Homo sapiens: one gene and its partners. The protein of the gene in region 2 purifies or fractionates together with the protein of the main gene of each other region. This does not show direct contact. Each region holds a gene or a part of one and is shown on either strand. Other genes may lie near its edges.

Region 1 (4,883 bases), on a different chromosome or scaffold from region 2:
TCCAAATCCCAACACTCACCATTAAGAACAGCCACTCCAGCTCCTCGCCTAGCCACATTCATGGGTGCAATTAAAGTCCAGGTATTATTTTCAGGATTGTATCGTTCTACTGTGTTCAGACAATTCCAAGATTCTGCACCTCCGATTATGTACAAATAACCACCAAGCTCACAGACTGCAGACTGGTGTCTCCCTACAAGAAAAGTCAAGTCAAGATTATTGCTACATCTCCCAGACTCTAAGTGTATACTACACATACTGTTGATTTGAAGGTCTTTAAAAAAAAAAAGGAAAAAAAATCAACTTACGAATGTTAAGAGGGGCACAGCTTGTCCACAACTTTGTTACAGGATCAAATACATCACAATTTTTCAGTCCTTTTTGACCATATGGATCAGAGCCACCAACGATGTATAACTTTCCATTCAGAGCACACACTCCTATGTAAGTATAAAATAAAGTTACATATTGATAATTTAATTATCATATTTAAATACTGGATATCTCAGGAGAAAACTATTATTACCTGCATTACAACGGTTAGTTCTCAATTCTGGAACAGGAATCCAGTCATCTATGTTTGAATCATACATCTCTCCACAACTCAGGTCATCTGAGTGGCCATTTGATCCACCTACCACATAGAGCTGGCCCTATGCCAAAAGTGAGAGATGAGAATTTCTAACATCCTGAAGTTACGAGGAAAAAGCTAAATAGGGGTTGCTCCTGCAACATAATGCGCTTACCATGAGTACAGCCATTTGAAATCGGGCTCTTGGTGTTCTCATGGGAGCAAGAAAGGACCAGTGATCTGTATGTGGATTATAGCATTCGACTGTTCGAAGACATTCCTCTCTGTTATAGCCACCTGGTAAAAAATAAAACCATAAAGATTTATGTTTAAAATATTAAACTGGACCACGGTTTCCAGTCCTGTAAGTTTAAGAAATCTGCACAATGAGAAAAAGTATTAAAACTTTTTAAGGATGCCTTAGTTGATCTTTTAACTAAGTGCTTGTAATAGCTGAAAAATCGCATTATCAGTACAAATAAACTGCTTAGTCTTGGCTTGAATATTAGAAAAATTTAGCCATGACATAATTTTTTTAAAAATTAGATACAGACATTGAACTGAAGGTTAGCCATATTCAATAGTATTGTTATTTCCCTATCTTATTGGATTGCCGTGAAAGATGGCATATTAAACCCTCTCTTTGAAAGTTTGCATGTCACAAAAATGCCCATCTACATGCTTAGCCAGTTGAATGCTTCTGTTCTTACCTGCAGCTATGAGTTTGCCATTCATCTCTGCTGTTCCCAGACCAGATCGTGCGTACTGCATAGGAGACATGGGCTTTTCGATTAGCTCATCTTGTTGCATCTCAAAGCTTAAACTCTTACTTAGTTTTGGAGTACTTGTTGGTGAGCTCTGTGGGCTGTTTCTCCCATGAAGAAAAATGACACAGAATATACCATCCAGCACAGCCAGGCACAAGTAAGTGTTATCTGTAAGCACAAGAGTTCCATGTTTAAGATGTAATTATTACTTTTGGTTTGTGTATATGATCCTGAATTGGACTCCAGTCTCCACATCCCAGACTGGAACAATCTGCTCTCGTTTTCCAAATTTAATTGCTTCTGAGTTTTTTCCTCGAGTAGTCAATTTAAGAGGTATTAAATTGGCAACACTCCTTCTTAAAAATAGGTAAGCTGAAAACAATCTGGCAAGTGTCATATACTTACTTGAAGTCTTTTCTGAAGCAACGATTTTCCACTCATGCTTAGGGCTTTGTACTGTAGCATTTGGAGAAGAGAGACATCCAGTTGAACTGCTACTTATCTGCTTATGGCCATTCTCACGTGGTGGCTTTTTCTGCAAAATCAAAAGGTAGCTACAGAAACCTAGCCAAAGACCACATCTGATGTACCTTTGTTCCTGAGCTATTCCACAACACTGAGTATCCTTCACCTATATATGACATTTATAGGACACTAACTTTAACTCAAGCCAACACTTTCCAAATGACACAAATTACTGGCATACTTCCATCTCCACTCAATGATGAGACAACTACGCCTACACAATTAGCCTAGGTAAGAAAAAGCTCAGTTTTAACAATTTGAAAAACATGTTGCAAATCAAGACCTCAGCAGAAGAAAAAACCAATCTATAATTATTTTTATATTAAGTATAGAATCTTTTAAAAGAATGCTATAAATTTAAAATAGTGTGAATTAACAGAGAATACATTTAACCCACTATTTTCATGAAATTGTCAAACCTAACTAAATCATATGTACAGGTATCCTTCATACAATGCCAGCAAAACGTAAGCAGATATAGATTCATCCAGTTTCTCTGAAAGTACTTGACAGGAAAAAAGTGGCAATTACAAGAAACACTTAAAGAATATTTCTTTAGGATTACCTTATAGGTATTATAGAGTGGTTTTCTAGACAAAATTACATCAAAACACAAGAAAATAGTAATCAGAAATGAAACATTACTAAAAACAACCAAATATTCACAAAAGTAGAATATACAGGAATACTAAAGAGGGAGAAATGAACAAAGCTGCCAATTTCCAAATGATTGTAAGAGAACTACTTTACACATGTGTTCTCATGTATGAGTTTTCCTTGATGGCTTCCTTCCAATTACTTTAGCCTTTGCCACTTCCAAAGGATATGATCATATGGAATTGGAAGAGTAAAGACTACTCTGAGAGGAACTGCCAAATGAACAGGTAGCAACTTCAGCACCTGGCCTAGTTTGCTCATCCCACTTGTGCTGGTCCAGATGGCCAGAACACATGGATAGGTAAAATTTCTAATGGAAATTTCTGTTGCTAGTGGAAGCAAAAAGCCATATAACAAGTAATTGAGAAAAAGATTTTGCTAGCTACTTGAAGCTATTAAGAAAAAGCTATATCAAAAGTTAGGCCTGAGTGTGGTTACAACATACGTAGGCTATTTTGAGAAAAGGCAGGGAATGTATCATTATCAATGGTTATGATTAAATTCCACTTAGATGTTTACTATGTACCTAGGTATTACTAGGTACTTTATTTACATCATCTCTTTTAGTCCAGTGAGGGTGATATTATCTACCCATTTTATAGATAAAAATATTGAAACTCAAGAAGATATGCATTGCCCAAGGCAATACAACTAAAATAAAGATTAGGAATTATGAAGATAAACCCCATCCTTTTTATACTATGACAAGTTATGTCATACTATAAAACAGATTTACACTATGACAGGCTGTTTTCCACTGTTACTAAAGTTGTGAATGCATCTTTCATATCACTTTTATACTATGAATATTAAGAATAAAAAATAAGGTTAGACTTATCTAACCTTATCTATTATTATGAATTACAAGGTACATAAAACCTCATCCCAACCTATGGGAAGAAGGGATCCAAATATCACAAATGGATGATGCTTACATTGAGGCTGTACTGAAGTAAAAAAACTGTTCTAATGTACAAACTATAATTAAGAGAAAATGACTGTGAAAGAGAAAGGCCCAAAAGCAATGCCTAATAACAAGCCTAATATAGAAATGCTGATTAAATCCTTTATATGTAAAGAATATATCCCTAAACCTTATTTTACATGACCTCCCAGAGAACTTGACAGTGTTTAGTCCTCCTTCAAACTTTCTTCTCCTACCTTAGGTAGCTTTTACAACATGATTAGATTCTTATTGTCCTCTGACTTTTCTAATGGCTTCTTCTCAACCTCCTTTTTCTATTCCTGAAGTCTAACATGTGTCCCTCGCATCCTCTTCATGATCTCTATTCATGGCATCACATTCTAATGAGTCACACATGTCAGAATCCCACTTATTCTCAAATTCTTTCTTTTCCCTAATCTTGCTAAGCAATCACTAAGGCCTGCTAAGTCAACCTTTGTAAATATAAATGTCTATTTATATATAGACATAAATAAAAAATCTATCCTTTCTCCTTCATGCCCCTAGATTAATCCCTCATCATTTTTTTAAAACCTGAACTACTGCTGGCAATAGTCTATAAACTGGGCTCAAACTTTTATTGATTTTCTGTGTCTGGTTATAAAAATAGGAAGGGTCCAAGGCAACAATTTTAGAAAATAAAACCAGAAATCAGTTGGGATATTCCAGCCCAAAGACTGCCACCTAATAGACTGTTCCCCAGTTTTTCACCATTACTAAAGTGAATGCAAAACTTTCGTATCACTGTATTCTTACCTAAGGCTTCCCACTGCCTATAGGATAAAGTATAAGCCCCATTCAGGGAGCATTTACCTACTTTCCCAGTCTTATGACCTGCAATTCCAAGAGTATCATCCTCACAGATACTCTTTGCTAACACCTCTCCCTTTATCTGCTATGCAGACTCCTCTAAATCCTAACACTGCTCAAAAGTTACCTCTTGTGTGAAATATCCCTGGCTTCTCTCCTGTCTCACTGTGTCCTCTCCTTTAGGCCTTTCGTAGCTACCTCTTATAAGCCTGTATTGTTTTGCCCACTCTTAGAAGGTCCTACAAGCAGAAACTGTCTCTTACACATTTTTGTGTTGCCATACCGAACATTATGGCCTGCCACTTATTGGGCACTCAACCTCTGCATGTTGAAAATGTACTTTTAAAATGTTAACTCAAAATGTTTAGAGTTAAGGGGGAAAATATCCTCAATATATTCAAAATGCACAAACATAGGTTCTCAACTAATTCAAATTCCAAAACTTTTAGAAATATTCACTCACTGTTGCCACAGGACACCTGAGAGAGCTAACACCTGATAATTTGTAACCATATAGGCTACTACTAAGTCTACCACTTACCCTCTGATTTTTAAAGAAAAGCATTCCTTAGTCTGGGCTGAGTCGACT
Region 2 (4,883 bases):
TCCTCTATATGTTGACTTGTTGAAGATGAAGCAAATATTCCTCATATATGAAGCAGGTAAAAGAATACTTTTTACTCTTTTGTAAGGAAATCATAAAATTGCGGGCTGGGCGCAGTGGCTCATGCCTCTAATCCCAGCACTTTGGGAGGCCAAGGCAGGCAGATCACAAGGTCAAGAGTTCGAGACCAGCCTGCCAACATGGTGAAACCCCGTCTCTACTAAGAATACAAAAAGTAGCCGGGTGTGGTGGTGACTGCCTGCAATCCCAGCTACTCAGAAGGCTGAGGCAGCAGAATAGCTTGAACCCGGGAGGTGGAGGTTGCAGTGAGCCGAGACTGCGCCACTGCACTCCAGCCTGGGCGACAGAGCAAGACTCCGTATTGAGAAAAAGAAAAATGCTGGCTGGGCGTGGTGGCTCATGTCTGTAATCCTAGCACTTTAGGAAGCCGAGGTGGATCATTTGAGGCCAAGAGTTCGAGACCAACCTGGCCAACACAGCAATACCCCATCTCTATTTAAGTACATATTCAGTTTTTTTAAAAAAAAGAAAAATGCTTACGTGACCATCTTCTTGTCTAAGAAATACTGATCCTTTTTGGCACCAATAACTCTTCGAAGTGAAACTTCCTCTTTATCGATCTAAGAAAAAATGTAAAAGCCCACAGTTAATTTAATAGTAAAGGAGAAAACTTTTTAAATAAGGTCATTTTAAAGTCCTTGCCCATAAGTATTTATTTTAAAATTTCAATTATCTCACTAAAAATAATACTACAAATACTCAATACTCTTAACCAAGACACTTTTCACAACAGTTTGTACATTCCCATTTGTTAACAGAGTATTCATTGTCATTTTAAGATAAAATCAGTATATAAACTGTAATTATAACAAATTATAAAAGCTTAAAAAGTTTCAAAGTATGAAGAAAATCAGCTAAACCAATTAAATTCTCAACATTACTTTAAAAAAAAAGTTACTTACTGGTAACCGGTTGTCTGAATTATCAAAAATAATCTCCACAAAAGCAGAAATAACACGAGGACCAGTACCTTCCTAAAAATGAAAGAAGTGAGAAATTTGCCATTTAAGTTGTATATTCATATCCTTTAAAGGATTCTTAAAGTCTAGGGCATAATAACAAGTCTGATTCAATGGAGAAAAATTTCTGCTAGATTCATATATACACACACACACTAATCTAACGTCTCTGCTCTTTTGGCAAGAGGGATACATACTTTGGGGATATCCCCAGAGTTATAGTATATATCCCTCTTGCCAAAACAGCAGAGACGTTAGATTAGGACAACAAAACTTCTCAACCAAATAGCTTTTGATTCTAAATAAAAAATAAGAGCTATGCAAGACATGTCAAAGTTAGATATCCTTAAATATGATTCTACAGACCACTTTATTAGACTGCAAGACTGGGGACATTTAACTCTACCTATTTGCTAATATCTAATACACCATGAGGCTTTTCTCTTACAGTCTCATTTTAATGCTGCAAAGAAATCCTAATAAATCATGGGATAATTACCAAAAGTCTGTTTTTTAAGAAAAATTGAGACATTCTACAGTTTTAAATCTATTATAGAAATATACACATTTAACATGTGTCACATTTAAACCAATCTATGACACAAAAACTATGGTACCAAGTCCAGATACCTTCCAGATTATAGAAACTATGTAGTAAATACAATGAAGAACTGTACCAAAGAGGTTATTAATTATTTTAATGCCAATCTGAAAAACCTAAAAAGAATTTTTCTAAAGGAAATCAATTCTGATTACTGGGCTACAAATTCAAACTAAACAAGGGGAAAAGACAGACAAGAGCTAAACAAAACAATTTCCTATGTGTGAGAAACACTGTTAAGACATGTTGAGGAATTTCATTTTCTAGTCTTTAATAAACAATATTCAAATCAGAAGGATTAATCGTTTTATTGTAGTCTTTCATGATTTTCTATCCTAAAATTACTTTAGTCCATTACTCATATTTTTTTCCACATCACATTGGTAATGTGCCAATGTCCTAACAAGGTTTGAGGGAGGCATGACTCACATGAACACGAAAACCCAATCATCGTGCTTATGCATTACAAAAGGACCCACTTAATAAAATATCCTAACTCACATTACTGTAAATATACAGGTGGTCCCCAACTTACGATGGTTCAACAAATGGCTGAATGACAACGTGATAGCAGTCTACATTCAGTAGAAACCATAATTTGAGTATCCATAAAATCACTGTTTTTTACTTTCAGCATAGTATTCAATAAATTATATGACAGATTCAACACTTTATTATAAAACAGACTTTTGTGTTAGATCATTTTGCTCAACTGTAGGCTAATGTCCATTTTTGACTTATGGTATTTTCAGTTTATGATAGGTTTATTAGGACATAACCCCGCTGTAAGTTGCAGAACATCTCTACTGTTTTTCATACTGGAAAATGATGTTTACTATCTAAGTACAAATATGGCTAAAACAACAAACAACTTGTATGTTGTTTAGTTTGCAATGGTTGTTTCTCTATGTTCCCAATTAATTTTTGGTTCTGCATCTTAAAGTTCCTAATCTGCAACCTCAAACTCTTCTTTCTCCTCAGCAAACCTGCTTCTTAAGCCTTTGCAGATCACATCCTTAAAGAAATGTACATGGAGGACATACCCACCTATAGGCAAATCCTATAATTTTCTCCTAACCATCACATAAAAATTAGGCCTTTATCTGGCATTAACATGTTAGGCTAAATTTCACAGCAGAATAAAACACTTATGATATATATCATGTCTCCTTTAAGACATTTATATGGAGGACATATCCATCTATAGGCAAATCCTATAATTTTCTCCTAAACCACTGTATAAAAATTGGGCTTTTATCTGGCATTAATATGTTAGGCTAAATTTCACAGCAGAGTAACACACTTATGAGAAAGATTGTGTCTTGTTCACAAAGAATCTGAAACTTGAACAAATGCTTTTTTAACCAGCATGGAAAATTTATTTTTAAAATATATGTAATATCAATAATGTCTTAAAGCAGTCTCACTCACATGCAATAAAGCCAACCGCTGTTCTGGACGAAGATGACTAAACTCATCACTGAGAACAAACTGAATTGCTGGAAATACAAAAACAACTATTAGTATACCCTAAAAAAGTGTTTATAACTTATTTATAACTTCCCACACCTCAATAGAACATAGTGTGTCTGGTAATAGACAATGCAAATAAATTATCTGTTTCATATGGACAAAAGGAAATGCAGAAAATGTGCCTGCACATCAGACTAATCAGGTAGGAAATGATATAAGAAAAATACTGAGAAGTTTTCATTGAAACATTTAAGGTAAGGAAATAAAGAGAAACCACCGAAATACATGAAAACAGACAAGCAAAACTAAGGTATACCTCTGGCTCAAAGTGTTCACTGACTGGATTAGGTTAACACTGTATTTGCTTTTTTCCCCACTAGACATAAATGATATGAGTTAAAATCCTTTTTAACAAAATAGGATGTATTTTGAGAATATGCTTAAGTGGATACTTTACCAAAAGAAATAAAACTAAGGAAATACAGGGAAATGTTTGAGATGCCCAACTTATACTACACTTCTTATACTATACCGAGCTCTGTAAGAAGGGGCCGTTCCTACTTCGGTATAGAGTACCTAACTGGACCACCCTGCCTAGGAAGTGGAACTCTTTACTCAGCTGTTCTTGTCCCAGTCCACCCAAGAGACCTCTGGCACTGTGTGTGTGTGGAGGTGGTGGGGGTGCCCACATCAGCAAGTACGTGCATAAGCATTAATGTGTGTGCTGTGGACACAGGTCGAGGTGAGGAGACTTCACACTGCCCTGGAGATTCTGAAATACTTCCACTTCAGTCCATTCTCTCATCATTGCCAAATTACAACCACAATAGGATATACAGGCTAGAGAGTGCCTTTCAGATTCGTGTGCACAGAAGAGATAGAACCTTTGTTCTTACTAAGCCAGTCCACTAAATGCCCCTTTCCCTCAAGCATTACCCAACTAAAAAGTTCAAATTTTTCAACCTACTCCTTAACTGTCTAATTTTGTTAAAATGTTTTTCTCCTCAAAGGATTTGTTAACAGACGCATTGCTATTTACACTTAAATGCAATTTAGAGAGAATTTTTGAAGCTCTATTTACTATCTTCAAAGTGACAACAGTCTGTTCAGTTTCAAGTTTTTTATACCTCTTCATCCTTTACAAAGATGATTGGTTTAGAAAACGTTTTCAAAAAGGTGAAATAAGAAAGATGAACAATTTTCCAAAACAATACTATCAACTATTCTACTGCATTTACATACGTTTAAAATATGCATTTATAACATTTATATATTACATTCAAGTTTAAAAAGCATTTTCATACATACTATTGCATTCCATTCTTACAAACCATCTAAGGTAGACAGGGCAAACATCCAAACATCTCCATTTTTAAAGTGAAAAGAAAAATTTGAGAGGCTACGTGTTTTGCCCACTCTCACACAGCTAATCAGCCACTGGGTATAAAGCAGAATTCAGATCTGTATACTCTAAACCCTCTACACTAAGCTGCAACCCCATATAAAGTATTTCTTGGGTTTCATGAATACATAACCTCAGAAAATTAATGATTTTAATAATCTACCCTAAGATACCCAGGTCTTAATATATTTACAATTCAAAAAGCAACACCTACCATAAAAAAAGTTACTTTTTCCAGATCCATTTCTGCCCACTGGAAAATTTCAAAAAGTACAAGTTATTTTACATAAAAACCAATAAAATTAAAACTGTTTACCTTTTTAAAAATACTCAATATTTTTAAAATCCAATTTTCTAATACATCTTAAC
Region 3 (4,883 bases), on a different chromosome or scaffold from region 2:
TTGCCGTCGATAGTGAGTGGTGGGTGCAGGGCCTGCAGGATCTGCAGCAGCTGGGCTGCCTCCTGTGGGAGGAGGGGAGGCAGGGACAGAAGGGTCAGGCCCGGGGAGGCCCCCGGCTCCATTGCCCGATTTCCAGGCTGGCAGCCGCGGTGGGAGGCTGGGGAAAAGGACCCTCGTCTCCACCCCGGGGGCCGGGACCCTGGCTGCCCGGCCCCCAACTGTGCCGCCCTCACCACGATGGTGGAGAGCTGGATGAAGGCAAAGCCGCGGTTCAGTTGGGTCTGCTTGTCCTTTATGACGCGCACGTTGGAGGAGGACAGCACCGCGTAGGGTGCCAGGGCCCCCAGGATGGAATCCATGGTGCTGTGTGGGTTCAGGTTGCGCAAAATGATGGCTGTGGGAAGGGGCCCAATGTTAGAGGACACCCCTGGCACTCTTGCCAGCCCTGCCCTTCAATGCCCCCACTGCTCCCTTTCCTCTGCCCCCACTCACTCCGTGCCTTTGCAACTGCCGCTTCCCTCACTGCTTCCTCCAGGATCAACTCTGCTTGGCGGTCCAGGTGCCAGCCTGGCTGCCTGTCTGCTGAGAACCTTCCCGACACACCCCCAAAGTCAGGTGGGATGTTGCCACTCCCCCTGTTCTCCCTACATCAAATGTCTATCCCCGCACCAAGTGGAGATTCCATGAGGATGAGGTCCTGCTCACTGCCATTTCTCTGGTCTTGGTGAGCCCAGCCCGACACCCTAGGGCACAGAGGAAGAAGGAACAACTGACTCACTGTCATTGGCGTTCTCTGAGCTTGGCTCCGAGCCCTGTGACAGGGCTTGGGAGGCCAGGACTCCCTGGGCCTGGTAGGGCTGCGGCAGGGGAAGCAGGCCCTGGCTCAGCTCCCGGCCACCCAGTGGCAGTGTCTGCTGATCCAGCCTCGTGCCGAGGGGCAGCTTCTGCTCTGCCTCTGTCAGGGGCAGTGGGAGACAGGCTGGTGATAAGGGGAAGGCTCCACGACTGGTCACCCTCCTCCCTATACCAAGCCCTGAGCACAGACCCCTCACCCTTCCCTTCTCCCCAACCGCTCCGCCCTGGAGAGCACGAGAGGTAGGTGGGCCTCACCTGACTTGGGCACGCCACATTTGAAGCACTTCTCTCGGCGTTTGAAGTTCTGGACGCCACACTGTGAGGCACAGGCCAGGCCGTCAGAGGGAGCAGGGATTTCCCACTGCACCCTCCAAACTTGGATGAAGAGATCTCCCAGGGACCCCGCAGTGCCCCAGGAAGGAAAGCCCCTAGGCAATGGTGGCAGGTGCCTTCTGAACCTTCTGATGTTGTTCTCAGTACTGTGCATCTTCCCTTTCCAGACTCTCATTTGTCCTCTGTGCCAACCCACTCAGCTCAGGAATAAACAACTCCCCCATTTGGTACAACAACTCCCTCCTCTCCTTCCTCTGCCTTCTTAAGGCCACCAACTCCCAGGACTGTTCCCCGCCTCAGGTATTCAATCCCTTTATTAGGTTCCTCTCCCTGAAACTTGCTCCTCTATTCAGAAACCTTTCAGTGTTTCAGCCCTAGAAGTCAGTAGCCAGACCCGCACCCCTCCTCTTAGCTCTAGGACTGGGTTGGATCCTGCTACGCTTGAGAAATTTTCCTTGAATGTTCCAGCATCTGGAGACCCAGCTTCTACCACACTCCATCTCTGTTCCAGACTCAGGTACTAAGCACCACTCCTGGGCCAGGCCCTGCTGCACATGGCCAGAACATGGTCTCTGCCCTCATGGCCTAATAGCACAGGGGCAGATGCAGCATGAAGAGGGGCAGGTCGGTCTGCATGGACCATCCAGCAGGGGCTCGGGGAGGGAAATGGGCTGGGGGTGGGGTGCCATTTACTCGGCAGGGACAGTCCCTGCACAGAAGCAGGGAGGTTTGACCTGGGATGCCCAGAAGTTTCATTTTGTTAAGCCTTGCTGGGGAGGGATTGTTATCGGAGGGAACAATGGACTTTCCGAAACTGGTGTGGGAGAGTAAGGGGAGAAGCAAAAGCCAAGGCCGGGGAAGGAAGCCAGTTAGGTAATGGAGGATCTTATGCTTAAGCTGAGCTGGGGCTGGTTAAGCAGAGGAGGAGAGGCGTGGGTAGTCAGAGGTGGTTTTGAGGAATGTTCCAGGTGAGGGCGTGGGAGAAAGAGGACAAGAGGCCAGCATACCAGAGAGGGCTCCACAGTGAGTGGGTGAGAGCGTGACGATTGGCATGAGCAGCGGGAATGGCGAGGGAGGGAAGGTGGCGTTTCTGTGATGGAAGTGACAGGACCTGGTGGCCAACAGGATGCAGGGGAGGGGAAGGAGTTCAAGAGAATTCCCTGGTTTTGGGCTGGGCGTGGTGGCTCACGCCTGTAATCCCAGCACTTTGGGAGGCTGAGGCGTGAGGACTGCTTGAGCTCAGGAGTTCAAGACCAGCCTGGCAAACATGACGAAACCCTGTCTCTACCAAAAAAAATAAAAATAAAAAGGCAAAAATTAGTGGGTGTGGTGGCATGCGCCTGTGGTCCCAGCTACTCTGGAGGCTGATGGCTTGAGCGCTGGAGACAGAGGTTGCAGTGAGCCCAGATTGCTGCACTCCAGCCTGGGCGACAGAGCCAGATCCTGTCTCAAAAAAAAAAAAAAGAGAATTCCCTGGTTTTGAGGCTATCTGGAAACACAGGAAGGAGTTCCACTGTCACTTTGTCTTTATCTCTCCAGAAATGTTAAGCACCAATCCTCTGATGGGACTTTTTTTTTTAAAACAGATGCACCACTCTCCCTGACTAGGCAGAGTACTTCCTGGGGAGAGGGTTGGGGCCTCTACAAACTGTGGAATCACAATGCTGGCCCCAGGGCAGACCTGAAGCCACTGTGGCATCCAAGTCCCTGTGATCAGGAGCAAGGCACAGGGCACAGCTAAAGGTTCACCCATGGTTCCACCTCTCTGAGCCTCAGCTTCCCCTCAGGGAAGACAGAGGTGACTACAAAACCACAGCCTCCAGTTTCAGGTTTGACTTGGCCTGGTCAGAGTGGCCTTCAGGCTTGAGCTACCTGCTATGGGCTCTCAGAACGCTCTGTGCTTTTCTTTCATGATTACAGTTAACAATTCGACTGTGTTAAATGTGGGCCAGGCACTGTTCTGAGTGTTACTCTCTCATTAACACAGCTGAATCCTCCCAACCACCTTTTGGGAGAGGTGTCATTAATATTCACATTTTAGAGATGGGGAAAGTGAGGCAAAGAGAGGCTAAGCACCTTGGCCAAAATCAAGGCCGATCTGGGATAGTCTCATTTCAGCCAGTCTGGCTCTGAAGCCCACATTCTCCACACCACCACTTCAAGTCTACACTGTCACTAATTCATCATCCACGTATATATTTCCTTAAAGTCTACTGGAACTCCAGGCAAGACTGCATTTTAGGAGGACAGAGCCTGCACCAAGTGAACGCTCACTACACATTTGTATATGGCTGGCTAGGAATGGTGACTACTCAAGCTGAGCTAGCAAGGGATAGAGAATGAGAGAGAGAGAGAGAGAGAGAGAGAGAGACAGAGGGAGAGGAGAGATTGGGGGAGGGGGAGAGATGGAGGGAGAAAGAGCGGGAGAGGAAGGGAGAGATCGCCGCCACTGCTGTTGCTGTCTCTGTCCATGACAACTGCTGCCCACCGCCCCTGTACCTTATTGCACAGCCAGTCCTCATTGATCTTGGGCTTGGGGTCACTGTAGTGCATCGACACCTTCTGGCCCAGGATGTTGAGGGAGTGCTGCGGGAAAAAGCAGAGCACAGTGAGGTCCAGGCAGCAGTGCCCCACGCACCGTTTCAGCATAGGAGAAGAGAGTGAGCGAGCCCTTCAGCTGGATGGATGAGGGACAGGGAACGGAGGGAGGTCGGAGAGCGGATGGAGGGAAGAAGGGAGGTAGGGAGGGAAAGCGCCACAGCTCTCGGGCGCAGCTGTTTGCTGCTCTGCCGGGCACACGCACGCACACATGTGAACACACACCACCAGGCACACAGTGTTCGGCTGACCGACGCTTGCCGGACAGTGGGGAGAAACCCCCACTCGGCCCTGACACTGCCAGGCCACACCCAGGGCCAGGACTACACAGGCTACACTTGGGGGGTGAGGGGAGACAGGGAGGGGGAGGGAGAGGGGAGAAAAAGAGAAAGAGAGCGCAGGTGCGCTAGTGCTGGAGAAGGGGAAAAAGAAAGAGCCATTTCGAACAGATGGAAGTTTCTGCCATGAGGCCGTCTTCCCATGGATGGCTGGGTCCTGGGCCCATGGCACTAGCCTACCAACCCCGAGGAGACGGCCCCAGGGCTGCCTCTGCCGGGATCCCCCATTCTACCACCTCTGCCCCTTCCTCCCCTGAAACTGCTCTCCAGTGCCCTACACCAGGGATCTGGGCAGGGGTGGGTGACCAGGCAGATCTTTGGGTCTCGGAGGTCCCAAAGCTGCTGAGTTGGGATCCCGTGCCAGGCTTGGGGGACAGGCTCCCCCCAGGGCTGACTGTGCACAGGTCCTTGCCGAGAAGACAGAGCTGCCTGAGGTGGTGCCTCCTGCGAGTGTGGAGATGTGATAGGAAGGGTAGGGGCGGCGAAGTGAGGCCAGGGTGTCGATAAAACTATCATACTCGACGGGAACTTGAGATCAACAGAGCAGTGCTGTCCCCTTGCATGAAAATCAAAGGGCCAAATTCACATGCAGGGATGGGGCTGACAAAATGAGTCTTGCTAGTGACTGTGCCAATAGCTAAGCTCCTCACTGGCAGGACTTCCAGTGGTCCTGAGGGTGGAATGAGGTCCTGGCTCTGGCTAACCCCAGAGAGGGGTGCCCCCCCCACCAGCCCCGGGGGAGTGGGAAGCTAGGTGAAA
Region 4 (4,883 bases), on a different chromosome or scaffold from region 2:
GCAAATAGAATTTCTCAAGGGGCAGCTCCCAGAAGCACCGGTGATTGGAAAGCAGACACCGTCACTGCCACCTTCCCTCCCAGGACTCCGGCCAAGGTTTCCAGTACTACTTGCCTCCAGTACCAGAGGCAGGCAAGTGGACATCAGGGGTGTCCCCAGGGGCGTGCATCTCAGAAGTCAGGGGCTCCAGAGAGGGTTCCAGCATCCTTCACCACGTGGCAGGAGTCTGCCACAGAGAGGTGTTGATTGCCTTTCCTCACATTTCCAGGAACTGAGTATCTACCAAGATCAGGAACAAAGGATCTTAAAGTTCCTGGAAGAGCTTGGGGAAGGGAAGGCCACCACAGCACATGATCTGTCTGGGAAACTTGGGACTCCGAAGAAAGAAATCAATCGAGTTTTATACTCCCTGGCAAAGAAGGGCAAGCTACAGAAAGAGGCAGGAACACCCCCTTTGTGGAAAATCGCGGTCTCCACTCAGGCTTGGAACCAGCACAGCGGAGTGGTAAGACCAGACGGTCATAGCCAAGGAGCCCCAAACTCAGACCCGAGTTTGGAACCGGAAGACAGAAACTCCACATCTGTCTCAGAAGATCTTCTTGAGCCTTTTATTGCAGTCTCAGCTCAGGCTTGGAACCAGCACAGCGGAGTGGTAAGACCAGACAGTCATAGCCAAGGATCCCCAAACTCAGACCCAGGTTTGGAACCTGAAGACAGCAACTCCACATCTGCCTTGGAAGATCCTCTTGAGTTTTTAGACATGGCCGAGATCAAGGAGAAAATCTGCGACTATCTCTTCAATGTGTCTGACTCCTCTGCCCTGAATTTGGCTAAAAATATTGGCCTTACCAAGGCCCGAGATATAAATGCTGTGCTAATTGACATGGAAAGGCAGGGGGATGTCTATAGACAAGGGACAACCCCTCCCATATGGCATTTGACAGACAAGAAGCGAGAGAGGATGCAAATCAAGAGAAATACGAACAGTGTTCCTGAAACCGCTCCAGCTGCAATCCCTGAGACCAAAAGAAACGCAGAGTTCCTCACCTGTAATATACCCACATCAAATGCCTCAAATAACATGGTAACCACAGAAAAAGTGGAGAATGGGCAGGAACCTGTCATAAAGTTAGAAAACAGGCAAGAGGCCAGACCAGAACCAGCAAGACTGAAACCACCTGTTCATTACAATGGCCCCTCAAAAGCAGGGTATGTTGACTTTGAAAATGGCCAGTGGGCCACAGATGACATCCCAGATGACTTGAATAGTATCCGCGCAGCACCAGGTGAGTTTCGAGCCATCATGGAGATGCCCTCCTTCTACAGTCATGGCTTGCCACGGTGTTCACCCTACAAGAAACTGACAGAGTGCCAGCTGAAGAACCCCATCAGCGGGCTGTTAGAATATGCCCAGTTCGCTAGTCAAACCTGTGAGTTCAACATGATAGAGCAGAGTGGACCACCCCATGAACCTCGGTAAGAGACCACCCAGGAACTGTACCTAGGGTTGGGGTCAGGTGCTTTTGCTCCTGACGCAGTCTTGGCTGATTTGTGAGCAGTGCTGTTTGGTGGCGCCTATCTTTTCCTCCTTCCCTTCTGCCTTTTAGCTAAATTCCCCTTGATTGGCCCTTTCTCCAGATATTGAGCAGGGAATATAGACCTTGGACCAGCCAGAATCTTGGCTGAACAAGGGGGAGGTTGACTCTGTTGGCTGTAATGAAGCTTCTTTAGAAATGATTGGTTTTGGCCGTACGCGGTGGCTCATGCCTGTAATCCCAGCACTTTTTGAGGCCGAGGCAGGCATATCACGAGGTCAGGAGTTTGAGACCAGCCTGGCCAACATGGTGAAACCCTGTCTCTACTAAAAATACAAAAATTAGCTGGGCGTGGTGGCGTGCACCTGTAGTCCCAGCTACTCAGGAAGCTGAGACAGGAGAATCACTTGAACCCAGGAGGCAGAGGTTGCAGTGAACTGAGATTGCGCCACTGCACTCCAGCCTGGGCCACAGAGCAAGACTCCATCTCAAAAAAAAAAAAGAAAGAAATGATTGGTCTTGGGGGCCGGGGCGGTGGCTTACGACTGTAATCCCAGCACTTTGGGAGGCCAAGGCAGGCAGATCATGAGGTGAGGAATTCGAGACCAGCCTGGCCAACATGGTGAAACCCCATCTCTACTAAAAATACAAAAATTAGCTGGGGGTGGTGGTGCTTGCCTGTAATCCCAGCTACTCGGGAGGCTGAGGCAGGAGAATCACTTGAACCCAGGAGGTGGAGGTTGTAGTGAGCCGAGATTGGCGCCACTGCACTCCAGCCTGGGCGACAGAGTGAGACTCCATCTTGGAAAAAGAAAGAAAAAAGAAAAACATGATTGATCTCCATGCATCAATATCATGCCTGCCTCCTAAGGCAGAGGTAATGAAGACTTAATTCCCTTCTGTAGGCCTTCCCCTCCTCCCTAAGCCGTTTTCTGAGAGAGGTGCAGGAGCAGGTGGGTTGGGGCAGGCTGCATACACAGTGGGGGTGGGTTGTGCTGCTAAGCAGCAGCAGGTCCACAATCCCCCCTCTGCATAGCTCCTGGGGGGAAAGGATGGAGGAGCGTGTGCACGGCTGCCTGCCTGTTGAAGGTGGTGGTTCTAATTTTATAAACCTCCTCTGCACAGATGGGTAGGCTAGCACTTGCTGCCACTCCTGAGCTGTGAAGTCAGCCTTTACCTCACTCAGATAGCTGGTCAGGCCCTGCACTGTAGGTCCTAATAGGCCAGTGGACAGATTGAGGAAAACAGGAGCTTCTGAAGGGCATAACAGAGAGCAAAACCACTGAAGCTGAGTGGCTGCAGCTGCAGCCAGGGAAAGAGCCAGTAGGATGGGGGAGAATTCCACTGACCTTTATGTTTACCTAGCCTGGTTTCTAGGGGTGTAGATTCCTGGCTAGGGCCCTTATTCCTTGTCTTGACTGTCTTCATGACACCAATTTGGCATTTCAGGAGAGCGGTTAAGAAAAGGAGTTGTGTCTGTCCAAAAGCTGGCAAGGCCAGAGCTGGATTGTTTGGGGTAGAGACTGGATGGCCGTCATTCTCTTTTGCCTCCATCCCTCCTCCCCAGAGTTGGAGGAAAGCAGTGGATTTTGTGGTTAGTCATTCTTTGGACTCACACTAAAAGAAACATTGGTGCCATGTTCAAATATATCAGAAGACCTAGGAAATAAGAAATTTGACCTACTTTTCTAAATGAAATCCCAGACTGAGCAAAGAGCTCACCACATTTGAAAGCTTGAACAAAGGGGGCCTAGGCTAAGTCCAGAGGCCTAGAACAAATGCTTTTTTATTTTCTACATAACAAGGGGAAATTCCTTGTTATGTAGAAAATAGCTGGAGACAAATGGTGCTATAGAGTGACTCATAACAAACTACGGTGATATAGGTCTAGGGACAAAAGCAGGCCACTGATAAGTGGCAGATGCCTGATCCCCCTAGGTAGTGGGGAGTGTGAGACTGGGTTATAAGAAGCCTTCACTATCTTTTAGGACCCTCCCTTGAGGAGGCCAGTCTACCACAATTGCTTTAGAATGAAGGTCTTTTGGTTGCTCACAAGACTATAATGGTAATTTTTGGCTCATCATTTTTGTGTGTGTGGGTTTTATCTTAATTCATTGTTAAAGAGATAGTGGGTTTCCCCTGAGCTAGTTTCCTATCATCTGTGCCTATGTTTGCTTCACTGAGCTATGGGGAAAGAGTCACTGGCTGCTTTGTTTACAAAAAGAAAGGACAGGCTGAGCCTTAAGGAGTAGGAAGGAGTTCCTTGGCCTACCCTTCATCTCCACAAGTGAAAAGCCCCTTAGCGTAGCAGAAAATTCCAGGTTGAAGGTCTCTTTGGAGAAGGCAGAAGGAGTGACCTAGACTCCTGTTCACACATCTAATCACTTTCCGTCAAGATTTAAATTCCAGGTTGTCATCAATGGCCGAGAGTTTCCCCCAGCTGAAGCTGGAAGCAAGAAAGTGGCCAAGCAGGATGCAGCTATGAAAGCCATGACAATTCTGCTAGAGGAAGCCAAAGCCAAGGACAGTGGAAAATCAGAAGAATCATCCCACTATTCCACAGAGAAAGAATCAGAGAAGGTAGGTGTCCTCCTGCCATCTGGGAGGATCAGTTCCCTGTCAGTGTCTGGATTGTAACTGACTCCCTTGAGGCAATCCCAGCCTAAACAACTGACACCATCTCGGAGTCAGCTTCCCACTCTTCCCTCTACCCTATCTCGCCAGCCCACCTTTCCTCCTCTCATACCCAGCTCCTCTGTCTGCTCCTGTCCCAACATAATTGGATTTACAGAATTTCGGACTTGAAAGAGACCTGAAAGTTTATTGAGGCCAATCTCCTCTCTTGGAAGATGCGGAATGAGAGCTCCAGCAGCCCCTTTAACTTTGGGAAGCCAACCCCTTGACAGGTGGTGGGAATAAAGTCCCCCATCCCCATCCCTTCTTCTGTGATGGACTAACCAGTGTTTTCTTAGTTTTGTTTTCTTCTTGTCTCTCATTTTCTCTAGACTGCAGAGTCCCAGACCCCCACCCCTTCAGCCACATCCTTCTTTTCTGGGAAGAGCCCCGTCACCACACTGCTTGAGTGTATGCACAAATTGGGGAACTCCTGCGAATTCCGTCTCCTGTCCAAAGAAGGCCCTGCCCATGAACCCAAGTATGTCCTACGTGTCCTCTGTCCAGCTGAGGTTTTCTCAGAAAGAAAAAGAGACACATTTTCTTCCTTGCCTCCTCAGGGATGGCAGATTGACCAATTTCTCCTGTTTCAAAATGGGGAAAGGAGGGCTCTGAGGTCCTGGTTGCTGCTTGTGAGGCAGACAATTAGGGATTAGGAATTCAAAGGGAATTCCT

The links. Proteins that work in one complex are often made in the same cells at the same time.
Region 1: the proteins of SMC3 (region 2) and IVNS1ABP purify together in Homo sapiens (affinity purification with mass spectrometry, with the first as the bait; one large-scale study listed by BioGRID). This does not show direct contact.
Region 3: the proteins of SMC3 (region 2) and RBM10 purify together in Homo sapiens (affinity purification with western blotting; one study listed by BioGRID). This does not show direct contact.
Region 4: the proteins of SMC3 (region 2) and ADAR purify together in Homo sapiens (affinity purification with western blotting; one study listed by BioGRID). This does not show direct contact.

What each region holds. Positions count from the first base shown.
Region 1 is NC_000001.11:185,299,691-185,304,573, forward strand, and holds part of IVNS1ABP (influenza virus NS1A-binding protein), read right to left. Parts: intron 1,874-4,883; coding exon 1,744-1,873; intron 1,507-1,743; coding exon 1,282-1,506; intron 869-1,281; coding exon 747-868; intron 654-746; coding exon 527-653; intron 441-526; coding exon 309-440; intron 194-308; coding exon 20-193; intron 1-19. UniProt on the Homo sapiens protein: Involved in many cell functions, including pre-mRNA splicing, the aryl hydrocarbon receptor (AHR) pathway, F-actin organization and protein ubiquitination.
Region 2 is NC_000010.11:110,573,591-110,578,473, reverse strand, and holds part of SMC3 (structural maintenance of chromosomes protein 3), read right to left. Parts: intron 4,768-4,883; coding exon 4,729-4,767; intron 3,139-4,728; coding exon 3,071-3,138; intron 2,115-3,070; exon of another isoform or gene 2,013-2,114; intron 1,054-2,012; coding exon 982-1,053; intron 640-981; coding exon 560-639; intron 1-559. UniProt on the Homo sapiens protein: Central component of cohesin, a complex required for chromosome cohesion during the cell cycle. The cohesin complex may form a large proteinaceous ring within which sister chromatids can be trapped.
Region 3 is NC_000023.11:47,175,391-47,180,273, reverse strand, and holds part of RBM10 (RNA-binding protein 10), read right to left. Parts: intron 3,775-4,883; coding exon 3,688-3,774; intron 1,172-3,687; coding exon 1,111-1,171; intron 956-1,110; coding exon 779-955; intron 729-778; exon of another isoform or gene 493-728; intron 395-492; coding exon 234-394; intron 63-233; coding exon 1-62. UniProt on the Homo sapiens protein: Binds to ssRNA containing the consensus sequence 5'-AGGUAA-3'. May be involved in post-transcriptional processing, most probably in mRNA splicing. Binds to RNA homopolymers, with a preference for poly(G) and poly(U) and little for poly(A).
Region 4 is NC_000001.11:154,597,634-154,602,516, reverse strand, and holds part of ADAR (double-stranded RNA-specific adenosine deaminase), read left to right. Parts: coding exon 1-1,476; intron 1,477-3,931; coding exon 3,932-4,115; intron 4,116-4,540; coding exon 4,541-4,689; intron 4,690-4,883. UniProt on the Homo sapiens protein: Catalyzes the hydrolytic deamination of adenosine to inosine in double-stranded RNA (dsRNA) referred to as A-to-I RNA editing.